2 separate regions of the Homo sapiens genome follow, and region 2 is linked to region 1. Evidence: fine-mapped expression QTL. Tissue or cell type: whole blood. Region 1 holds a variant in brackets; the other region holds the start of a gene. All regions are shown on one strand. Distances are from middle to middle.

Region 1 (5,196 bases):
AAGGTAGATGGGAAGGAGGGGATACAGTCAAGAGATACTAAGGAAATAGAATTAACAGAAGAGGGAGATCAAGAGATTTGCTTATGCTTCTGGGTTTGCAGGACATGCCATTTACTGGGGCACAGAATATAGAAGAATTAGGTGTGTGTCAAGAAGATCCATCATTCTGTTTTGTACACGTTAAGTCTAAGAACCACCAGGTGGAAATGGAGGCAGCTGTGTATGCAGATGTGTGGGCAGAAGAGCCAGGCAGATGGATTCGGAACTCAGCAGGGTATGGCTGTGGTTGAGGTCATGCAGAGAGCATGGTGGGTGGGGGCACTGACGGCAGAATCTCCTAGAACCCCAACATTTAGGAGATGAGCTGAGAAACAGGAACCCTAGATTATCTGGAAGAGAAGCTTGGGAACTACGAAAGTGTTCAGAGGGAGGATCAGGCAGGGCACTTGTCAGAACAACTGCAGTCTGGGTACTCAAAGGAAGGAAACTTCTCAAAGGTGTGTGTTTCAGGCATGCAGATACATATGCATTTTTAAAGTCATTCCTTCTCTTAAGTTTGGAATATTGAGGAAAAACTCTTTCACATCAACCCTGGTGCCACCAGGCGACCTGGCCCAACCCTTCACTGTTGTCCAAGTGCGTCAGGAGAAGCCACCTGGCCGGAAGGAGCCAGGTGGAGCAGAGGGCAGCCAGTCTTATAGTCAATAGTCAGTGATAAGGCCAGATGTGTGGCAATATCAAATAATCAAGAACTGGCGTCATCCCCAGACAGCATGCTTAACTGTCTTCAGTGAGGAGACAAGGAAGGGGTGGAGGGGTGTCTCAGATGCCTGGGAGGGGAAATGGGAGGGAGCTCGCATTTGTGGAGTGGGCCAGGCCCTGTGCTAGGCTCTTTCCATGTTATCTCCACTAACCCTCCCAACAGCCATGCCTGTTTCAAAGATAAGACAGATGGGGCTCCAAGAGGTTAAATAATGTGCCTCAGGTAGTAACTGAGTGACCTAGGATTTGAACCTGGAAGGCCAAAGGCCATGCTGTCTCAAGGGAGCCCTTGGTCACCAGTTCAGTCAATCTCCCTGGTGAAGGTCCGTGTGCTGTAAGTTTGGGCATGGATACAAACCTTCCCATTGAAGCTTGATATGAGTGATGGCTCAGCGCCCAATCAGCAGCCAGATTAGGTGTTCTCCATGAGTGGTTTGGTGCTAGCACTTGCTTCCAAACCACACTTCCTGTTCATCTTTCACACCTATTGTCTCACTGCTGGGTTTCTTGCCAAATGCCTCCCTTGCCACTCCCAGTATGGGGGCAGAGTGACTAGGGAACAGCTTACAATGAGGAGTCTGTCAGACCTCCTTACTTTGCAGACGTCCTAAACACCTGATGAGCAACCACCAACTACTGAGGAGAGCCAATTTGCACCCAATTTTTGAGACCCTAAAAGACACTCTTTGAGCCTGATTACAGGTCAAATACTGGTAATAGCTAAAGGGTGGCTTTCTGTGTGCTGAGCCTTGAATTGTCTGCCTAACATGCATTGTTTCATATAATTCTTAAAATAACCCCATGAGGTGAGTGCGATTATTACACCCATTTTGCCTACAAGGAAGCAGGCTGAGAGAAAAGTGTCTACACCCAGTAAGCACCAGGAATGTCTGAATCAAAGGCAGGGAGAGGTGCCTGCCAAGCCCCGCACTTCCTTTCTCTCCCTTCCCCTAAGGCCTTTGGCTTAGATACGCTGATCCTTGAGAAATCCCTCCTCTCTCTTCCTTCCTTCCTTCCTTCCTTCCTTCCTTCCTTCCTTCCTTTCTTTTTTCTTCCTTTCTCTCGCTCTCTCTCTTCTTCTTTCTTTTTTTTTCTGGAGTCTCGCTCTGTTTCCCAGGCGTGATCTTGGCTCACTGCAACCTCCACCTCCAGGGTTCCAGCAATTCTCTTGCCTCAGCCTCCTTAGTGGCTGAGACTATAGGAGTGCGCCACCACGCCCAGCGAAGTTTTGTATTTTTAGTAGACATGGGGTTTCACCATGTTGGCTAGTATGGTCTTGATCTCTTGAGCTTGTGATCCACCTGCCTCAGACTCCCAAAGTGCTGGAATTACAGACACGAGCCACCGCGCCCGGCCTATTCAGGAGCTTTTACCCCATAAATCTTCTTACACATAGAAAAATAAAAAGTTCTGTCCCTTGTTACAGGTATTTTATATTATCAGTGGCGCCAATAAGGTGGGTGCATGTGTGTGCACACATGCGTGTATATGGGTGTGTGTGCACACCTGCATGTATATGGGTGTGTGTGCACACATGCATGTATGTGTCTGTGTGTGTGCATACACATATGTGGGGGTGGAGTAGGAATCAGGCAAATCAACCTCATAGACCTGTTCCCTGTTTCTGGGGTCATATATGGCTACAGTGACTATGTTTCTGAACCACAGGCCAGGCCACATGTCCTGGCCATTGCAATGGTTGTTGAGGGGATATTACAACAGTGAAACTGATACCTGCCCATGAGATACAGAGGCTGTTGGCTAACAGTTCAGCAGATACACTGTAGCGTGCTTTGGAGACATTCTAAAGGCCTCTGAGAGAGACAATGTCTTGCCAAGAGTTGAGGCCTGAAACTTGACAGCTGCCCACAGCCCATTTAAGGGTTAGTGTTACTCGACACAATTTTAAAGACATTGTCATGGAGGATCTGATATTCTCAGAACATTCAAGAGAAATGTTATAGCCTAAAACCAGAGGGGAAATCTGAAACCATATCTTCTTTTAGGGGCTACTATAGAATTCATTAAATTAATAATTAAATCTATGTATGTACATACAAAATGTTATGGACAACTGAGCCAGCCCTACACACACACAAGATGTCAGAAAGATTACCTCTGGCCGGGCACGGTGGCTCACACCTGTAATCCCAGCACTTTGGGAGGCCAAGCTGGGTGGAACATCTGAGGTCAGGAGTTCGAGACCAGCCTGGTAAACATGGTAAAACCCTGTCTCTACTAAAAATACAAAAATTAGCTGGGCGTGGTGACTCCCGCCTGTAGTCCCAGCTACTCGGGAGGCTGAGGCACTAGAATCGCTTGAACCCAGGAGGCAGAGGTTGCAGTGAGCTGAGATCACACCAC[T/C]GCACACCAGCCTGGGCAACAGAGTGAGACTTGGTCTAAAAAAAAAGAAAAGAAAAGAAAGAAAAAGAAAAAGAAAAGATTACCTCTGTTAAAAATACTCAGGCAGTAGAGATAGCAGCCAATTTTGGGTTTGCATGACATTAATTCAACAAGCATGTATTACTTCCTACCTATTAGCTCCCAGATACTTGGTACCACGCCCAAAGAAGACTGGGCCTGGGATTGCAGTGACAGTAGGGTGGCAGATGTGTGGGGGATAAGTATGATATGGTGTAGGGAGGGTTATAATACTGATGAGTGCAATGTGCTACAGAATCCAGAAGATGAAGAATTCTTGGGAGGGGTGGTGGTATTAGTTTCCTACTACTATGTAATAAATTACTACAATTTAGCAGCTTAAAGCAACAACAATGTATTATCTCACAGTTTCCATGTGTCAGGGGTACAGGTATGGCTGAACCAAGTCCTCTGCTCAGGGTCTCACAAGCTGACAATCAAGGTGTCTGCCGGGTTGCATTTCTTTCTGGAGGTTGAGGTCCTCTTCCAGGCTCACGTGATTGTTGGCAGAATTTAGTTTCTTGCATCTGTATGATTGAGGCCTTTGTTGTCTTGGCAGCTGTCACCAGGGGCCACTCTTATCAACTAGAGGCTTCCCTCAAGTCTTTGTCACATGGCCCACTTCACACATCCTCTCATAAGGTGGCAGCTTTCTTCTTCAAGACTAGCAGGAAATTCTCTTTGACTTCAGGGAGGATCCTAGTCCCTTTTTGTTTTCAGGGTTTTATTATTTATTTATTTTGAGATAGAGTTTTGCTCTTGTTGCCCAGGCTGGAGTGCAATGGTATGATCTTGGCTTGCTCCAATCTCTACCTCCTGGGTTCAAGTGATTCTCCCATGTCAGTCTCCTGAGTAGCTGAGATTACAGGCATGTACCACCATGCCCAGCTAATTTTGTATTTTTAGTAGAGATGGGGTTTTACCATGTTGGCCAGGCTGGTCTCAAACTCCTGACCTGAGGTGATCCACCTGCCTCGGCCTCCCAAAGTGCTGGGATTACAGGCATGAGCCAGCGTGCCTGGCTATTTATTTATTTTTGAGACAGGGTTTCACTCTGTCACCCAGACTGGAGTGCAGTGATGCGATCACAGCTCACTGCAGCCTCGAACTCCTGGGCTTAGGCCATCCTCCCGCTCAGCCTCCCAAGTAGCTGGGACTACAGGCATATGCCACCATGCCTGGCTAATTAAAACAATTTTTTCTTTGTAGAGATGGGGGTCTTCCTATGCTGCCTCAGCTGTTCTACAACCCCTGGGCTCAAGAGGTCCTCTTGCCTCCCAAAGTGCTGGGTTATAGGCATAAGCCATCATGCCTGGCCCCTAGTCCCTTTTTGAAGGTCTCCCCTAATTAGGACAGACCTAGCCAGACTAAACTCCCTTTTGATTAACCCAAAATCAGCTGATTAGGGACCTTAATTACATCTGCAAAATCCTTTTTACCATAATCAAGAGAGTGACATCCCATCATATTCACAAATGCTGCCAACACTCAAGGAGAGGGGATTATGTAAGATGTGTATACCAGGAGACAGAAATCTTGGAGGCCATCTTAGAATTCTGCATACCATGTGCGAGACGGGGAGAGGGAAGGGAAGGGGAAAGTGCCAGGGTGGGTAACCTTTGAGCTGAGTACTGAAGAATGAATTTAAGTTCTCTAGGCTGCCAAGAAGGGAGACAAGTGGGTAGGAGAAAGGGCAGAGAGGAAAGAACATTATGGAAAGAGAGATGGGGCCGGGTGCGGTGGCTCATGCCTGTAATCCCAGCACTTTTGGGAGGCTGAGGTGGGCGGATCATCTGAGGTCAGGGGTTTGAGACCCTGATGGCCAACATGGTGAAACCCTGTCTCTACTAAAAATACAAAAATTAGCTGGGCATGGTGGTGTGCACCTGTAATCCCAGCTACTAGGGAGGCTGAGGCAGGAGAACTGCTTGAACCCGGGAAGCGGAGGTTGCAGTGAGCAGAGATTGTGCCACTGCACTTCAGCCTGGGTGACAGGGAGAGATTCCATCTCAA
Region 2 (5,129 bases), 100 kb before region 1:
TAGAACTCCTGGCCTCAAGCGACCCGACCACCTTGGCCTCCCAGGTGTTGGGATTATAGGCATGAGCCACTGTGCCTCGCCTCATTCTTTGCTGACCCTGCTTCCTAGCCCAGGAGCATCTCCACCTATGTAACCCTCCCCATCCTTTTGAATGCCTCTGCCAAGCCTTTACAGTGTTTTTGAAAAGACTCTGATGAAGCTTTTACTGTAACCATGTCTTTAATTTTTAGACCCCATACACTGAAATGATATTTGTTCATTCTTTTCATATCTCTACATATGCAACTTAATGCTATTTGTTTACTAACAATGGTCAACTTATTTTCCTACTGAAATATAAGCTTCTAGAGAAAAAGAGTGCTTCTGAACTTTTGTAAATTCACAGATCTAATAAATATTTGGTGATATGGACAACGCTATGCAATTTTTGGGAAGTGTAATCAAATTTAACTCAAAACCAACCCAGTAATCAAGTTCAACAGGATAATAATAAAAAGGCAATGGGCAAGATGTGAGACTTTAGTTCTAGTCCAAGATTTACTTGTAACTTAAGTGAGCAAGTCACTTAAGTATACTGTTTTAGTTTCTCTAACTAAAATATAGAAATAACAATCCTTATCTCCTCTTTCTCATTTTGAGTGCAAAAAAGAAAACAGACTACTAAGAATAACTAACTCTAACATCATACATTAACGTGGCATCAGGATAAAAAAGAACACTTAAAAATATTCTCTTGCAACCACTTCTCTCCTTCTCCATCTTTCAGCCTTAAAAGTATGCTGGCTTGGAACACACACCAGAACTGCAGATGGATTTCCGACGGATGAATCACCTTCAGCAACCCCAGCAAGTTCTCATTAAATGTTTACCCTAAAGTAAGATTTTATGATCAAATCTAGTGTATCGTTAGTTTTTGGAAGTAGAATAATCACTGCAGGGTTTTACACTAGTATATATTAACTTGGGATTCCGTGATCCATGGATCTCTCCAAAGGATGTGCATATGTGCAAATGTGTTGATGGAGGGGGCAAGATTACTTTGCTTAGGTTATCAAAGGGGTCCTTGTGCCCCCCAAATTAAGAACTAATGGCTTAGAATATACCAACAAAGTATTTCCCATGCATAAACCCTGCAAGATAAACACTGATAAAGAACCAACACACAAAGATCTTCCCAATGAGCTTCAAGAAAAGCTTCCAACTGAGTGATCACTGCTGAACTTAAAGATAATGACAAAAATAACGGAGTTGCCACGGGTGTGGGGATTTTGAAGCTATGCCCCTCCTCCTCACCCCGACCTTGGAGAACTATATATACAGCATGAGAGGAAGGAAGTTTTGGCAATACCTCACATTCGTATACCACTTTAATTTACAGAACAGAGCCTTCGTTTGATTCTCAAGATAATCTTAAAAAAAAAAGAAAAAGATGATTTCAAGGTATTATCAGTAAGCCCATTTTACAGATGGGGAAACTAAAGCTCAAGAGACGGTTAGGTGACTTAGGACAATCAAAAATGACTAGTCAAACCAATGATCTAGCCAATTTCTAGTGCCGGTGAGTGGGAAGAGTGGTGAAGACCCTAAGACATATACCCCGTGGGCGCCTAAAGCACTAAGCTCACGACGCTGGGAAAGCGGGGCCGAGAAGGAGGGACTCGGGGCGACCCGACAGCGCCAGACAGGGCGGCCGGCGCCGAGGGCCGCTACCTCGGTGCGGCGGTACAGCGTGGCTTCCCCGAAGGCGCCGCGGCCCAGGACGCGGATGGGGATGTAGTGCAGTTCCTCCTGCTCCGCCGCGCCGCCGCCGGCTCGCGGCCCCTGACTGGCGCTAGGCCCCGGACTCGAGTCCCCGCAACCCCCGGACTCGCTCCCAAAGTCCGAGTTGATGGAATCGCAGTGTCGCTCGTACTCGCCCAGCACCGACATGGCGGCGGCCGCGGGCCTTGGGGACCAGCCTGCGTATGCCCGGAGGCCCTGGCCGCGCTGCGTCCCGCTCGCTTCAGATGCCGGCCCGCGGATCCGTCAGCCCAGCAACCCCGCGAAGCTCGATGGTGGCTCCTGCCCCCCGACCCGGAAACAGTTCTCTGTGTTTCCGGCCTGGCTGAGTTTCCTCCGCCTTTGCTTACCCTCTTGGCTAGTCTAGCGGCCAAGGCTTCCCGCTTTCGGGGAAGGCCTGCAAAGTGAGGCCTCGGGCTAGGGTTGGCGGGCGCGTGGTGGGAACCGCGTGGAACCGAAGGGCTCCCACGGGAACAAGGGCATCACTGACGGTACGGCCTCTCGGGTCTATTGACCCTTCTCTGCCTCCCCGGTCCGGACTCATACAACTTGGAGGCCCAGAGGTCGTCCAGTCTCATCTTGACGTCAGGTCTGTGACAAGAGGGTGATTGGGGAAGCATTCCCAGTGTACACCTTCTTCCCCATTCCAACGTTGGACAGCATTCTTTTTTAGAGAGATAGTATAGTAAAGATAATATGGCCGGGCAAGGTGGCTCACGCCTGTAATCTCAGCATGTTAGGAAGCCGAGGCGGGCGGATCACCTGAGGTCAGGCGTTTGAGACCAGCCTGACCAACTGGTGAAACCCCGTCTCTATAAAATACAAAAATTAGCCAGGCGTGGTGGCAGGCACCTGTAATCCCAGCTACTCCAGAGGCTGAGGCAGGTGAATCACTTGAACCCGGAAGGAGGAGGTTGCAGCGAGCCGAGATCGCGCACTACACTCCAGCCTGGATAACAGAGCGAGACTTTGTCTCAAAAAAAAAAAAAATAATAATAATATAGACAGCCTAAATGTCTGCCTCCGGTCATCTCGGTCCCTGGGCCGAGTTCTTTCTCCCAGGGCCATCCTAAGTCCCTCCCTCTTCTACACAACTCCAAAAATATTTTAAGTCAACTCTCCTGACACTTTCCTTCTCCCCCGTCTCTTTTTCCAGATTCAATTTATTCTATGTGTTTTTCCAGATATTTGACCATATGATATCATGAAACATTCTTTGAGCACTTGGTGCCACACACTGTTTGGGAACAGGAAATCTGCAATAATGTTCTCCCTACCGTCAAGTAGGAAAACAGCAATACGGTGAACAATAGGTGTTCCATCAGTTATGTGACCTTGGGCAATTATGTGACCTTGGGCAACTTCTCATCTCCAAGCTTGTTTTGTTGTGAGAATGTGGTCTACATCACAGACATAACAGCTAACATTTATTGAGTGTTATGTTCTGGGTACTATGCTAAAGGTTTTTTACGTATTATCTCACATTATTATGTATTATCCTATGTATTATGTATTATGTATTATCCTAACATTCCCATTTTACAGAAACAGAGGTACCTAAGTAACCTGCTTAATGTGACAGACCTAGTAAGAGGGAGCTGGGAAGTTGAACCCAGCAATCTGAAAAAGCAGGATGTGATGGGGCTAAGAGAAAGCCATGTGCCTAGCCGGGCGTGGTGGCTCACACTTGTAATCCCAGCACTTTGGGAGGGCCGATCACTTGAAGCCTGGAGTTCGAGTTCAGCCTGGCCAACATGGTGAAACCCCGTGTCCACTAAAAATACAAAAATTAGCCAGGCGTGCACACACCTGTAATCCCAGCTACTTGGGACGCTGAGGCACAAGAATTGCTTGAACTGGGGAGGCGGAGGTTGCGGTGAGCCAAGATCATGCCACTGCACTCGAGCCTGGGCAACAGAGTGAGAACCTGTCTCAAATACATAAAAATACATTGTGTCATATCGATTTGTGAAAAGTTCCTACTTTAAGAGAGCTTACATGTAACAGAAAACCACCAGGCAATTAAAACAGTTTCTATAAGGGCTATTAAAGTGCAAGATTCTAGAGAGGCATTTAGGAGTGGCATCTGTCCAAGCCAAACTTGCTGTGTGAGTGCAGGAATATACAAAATGTTAAGTCTAAACAAAGTAGAGAGATCATTTCAGGTAGAGGCCATTCCATCTACATCCTCCTATTAATTAGAAGGCACTTTGAGGATAGGTATTGCCTCTTGTTTATCTAGATAAACTCCAGAGTTTAGTTTGGCTTAAATCTGTTAATTCTATTAACTTAATTCTGTTATTCTCGATTAACTCTGTTAAACAGAAAAGATGCTCAATAAATTGTTTCTCAGTTGAATGGGAAAAAACCAATTACTTAAAATTGGGAATGCTGACTTTCAAAGAGGCTGAATAGATTTCAGCCTAAGCTTAAAAATTCATTTTTTTCTGGCACCTTTGCAACGAGGAACTAGTTTTCTATAACGTGGTTGGCCTGAAACTGAATTGTTCTAATGATAATGCATAGATACTACAAGCCTAGAAGAAACATGTCCTATTATAGAGCAGAGACATTCCTGCTGAATTCTTCATTATATTGGATATAACTGAAACTAATTGTCTTACCTTTGAATATTTATAAGTTCAAAAATAGTCAACATTTATTCTAATGGTATAACTTTTTTTTTTTTTTTGGAGACAGTCTCACTCTGTCACTCAGGATGGAGTGCAGTGGCATGATCTCAGCACACTGCAGCCTCCACCTCCCAAGTTCAAGTGATTCTCATGCCTCAGTCTCCTGAGTAGCTGGGATTACAAGCGTCCGCCACCATGCCCAGCTAATTTTTGTATTTTTAGTAGAGAGGGCATTCTGCCATGTTGGCCAGGCTGGTTCTCGAACTCCTGACCTCAAGTGATTGGCCTGCTAAAGTGTTGGGATTACAGGTGTGAGCCACTGCACCTGGCCAAGGTGTAAAATTTTAAAGCGCCTTTGGTTGAAACCAAACTATTTCCACATTGTACTTTAACAAGTGAATGGTTAGAATGCTATTTTGCATTAGTTTCCAATTTGTGAATGGCAAATTCCCAGGGGCCATAGAGTTACTGTCAAGATGAAAGAATCTACCAAAGACCAACCCAAGTTTATACCCTTCACTGTCTGCCACGGTAGCCATTAGCTACATATAGCTACTCAACACTTGAATTGTGGCTAGTCTAATTTTAAGCTATAGATGCGGTATAGCTTGAAATGCACACTGGATTTTCAAGATTTTATATGAAAAATGGAATGCAAAACATCTCATTAACCATTTTTATATTAACTATATGTTGAAATAATATTTTGGGTATATT

The links. PIP is the estimated chance that this variant, and not a neighbour inherited with it, causes the effect.
Region 2: it holds the start of NEK9, and the variant in region 1 is fine-mapped to the expression of NEK9 in whole blood (TOPMed, PIP 0.97).

What each region holds. Positions count from the first base shown.
Region 1 is chr14:75,229,052-75,234,247 of GRCh38, forward strand. No RefSeq gene overlaps it. Among named protein-coding and RNA genes, the nearest start is that of FOS, 47 kb to the right of the region's middle. RefSeq lists a cis regulatory region at 692-1,247. The variant T/C (reference allele first, on the strand shown) is at 3,127.
Region 2 is chr14:75,124,993-75,130,121 of GRCh38, forward strand. NEK9 (NIMA related kinase 9) reads right to left here and starts at 2,056. Exons shown (of 22, transcript NM_033116.6): 1 at 1,711-2,056. The coding sequence starts at 1,929. RefSeq lists enhancers at 1,920-1,969, 1,980-2,109.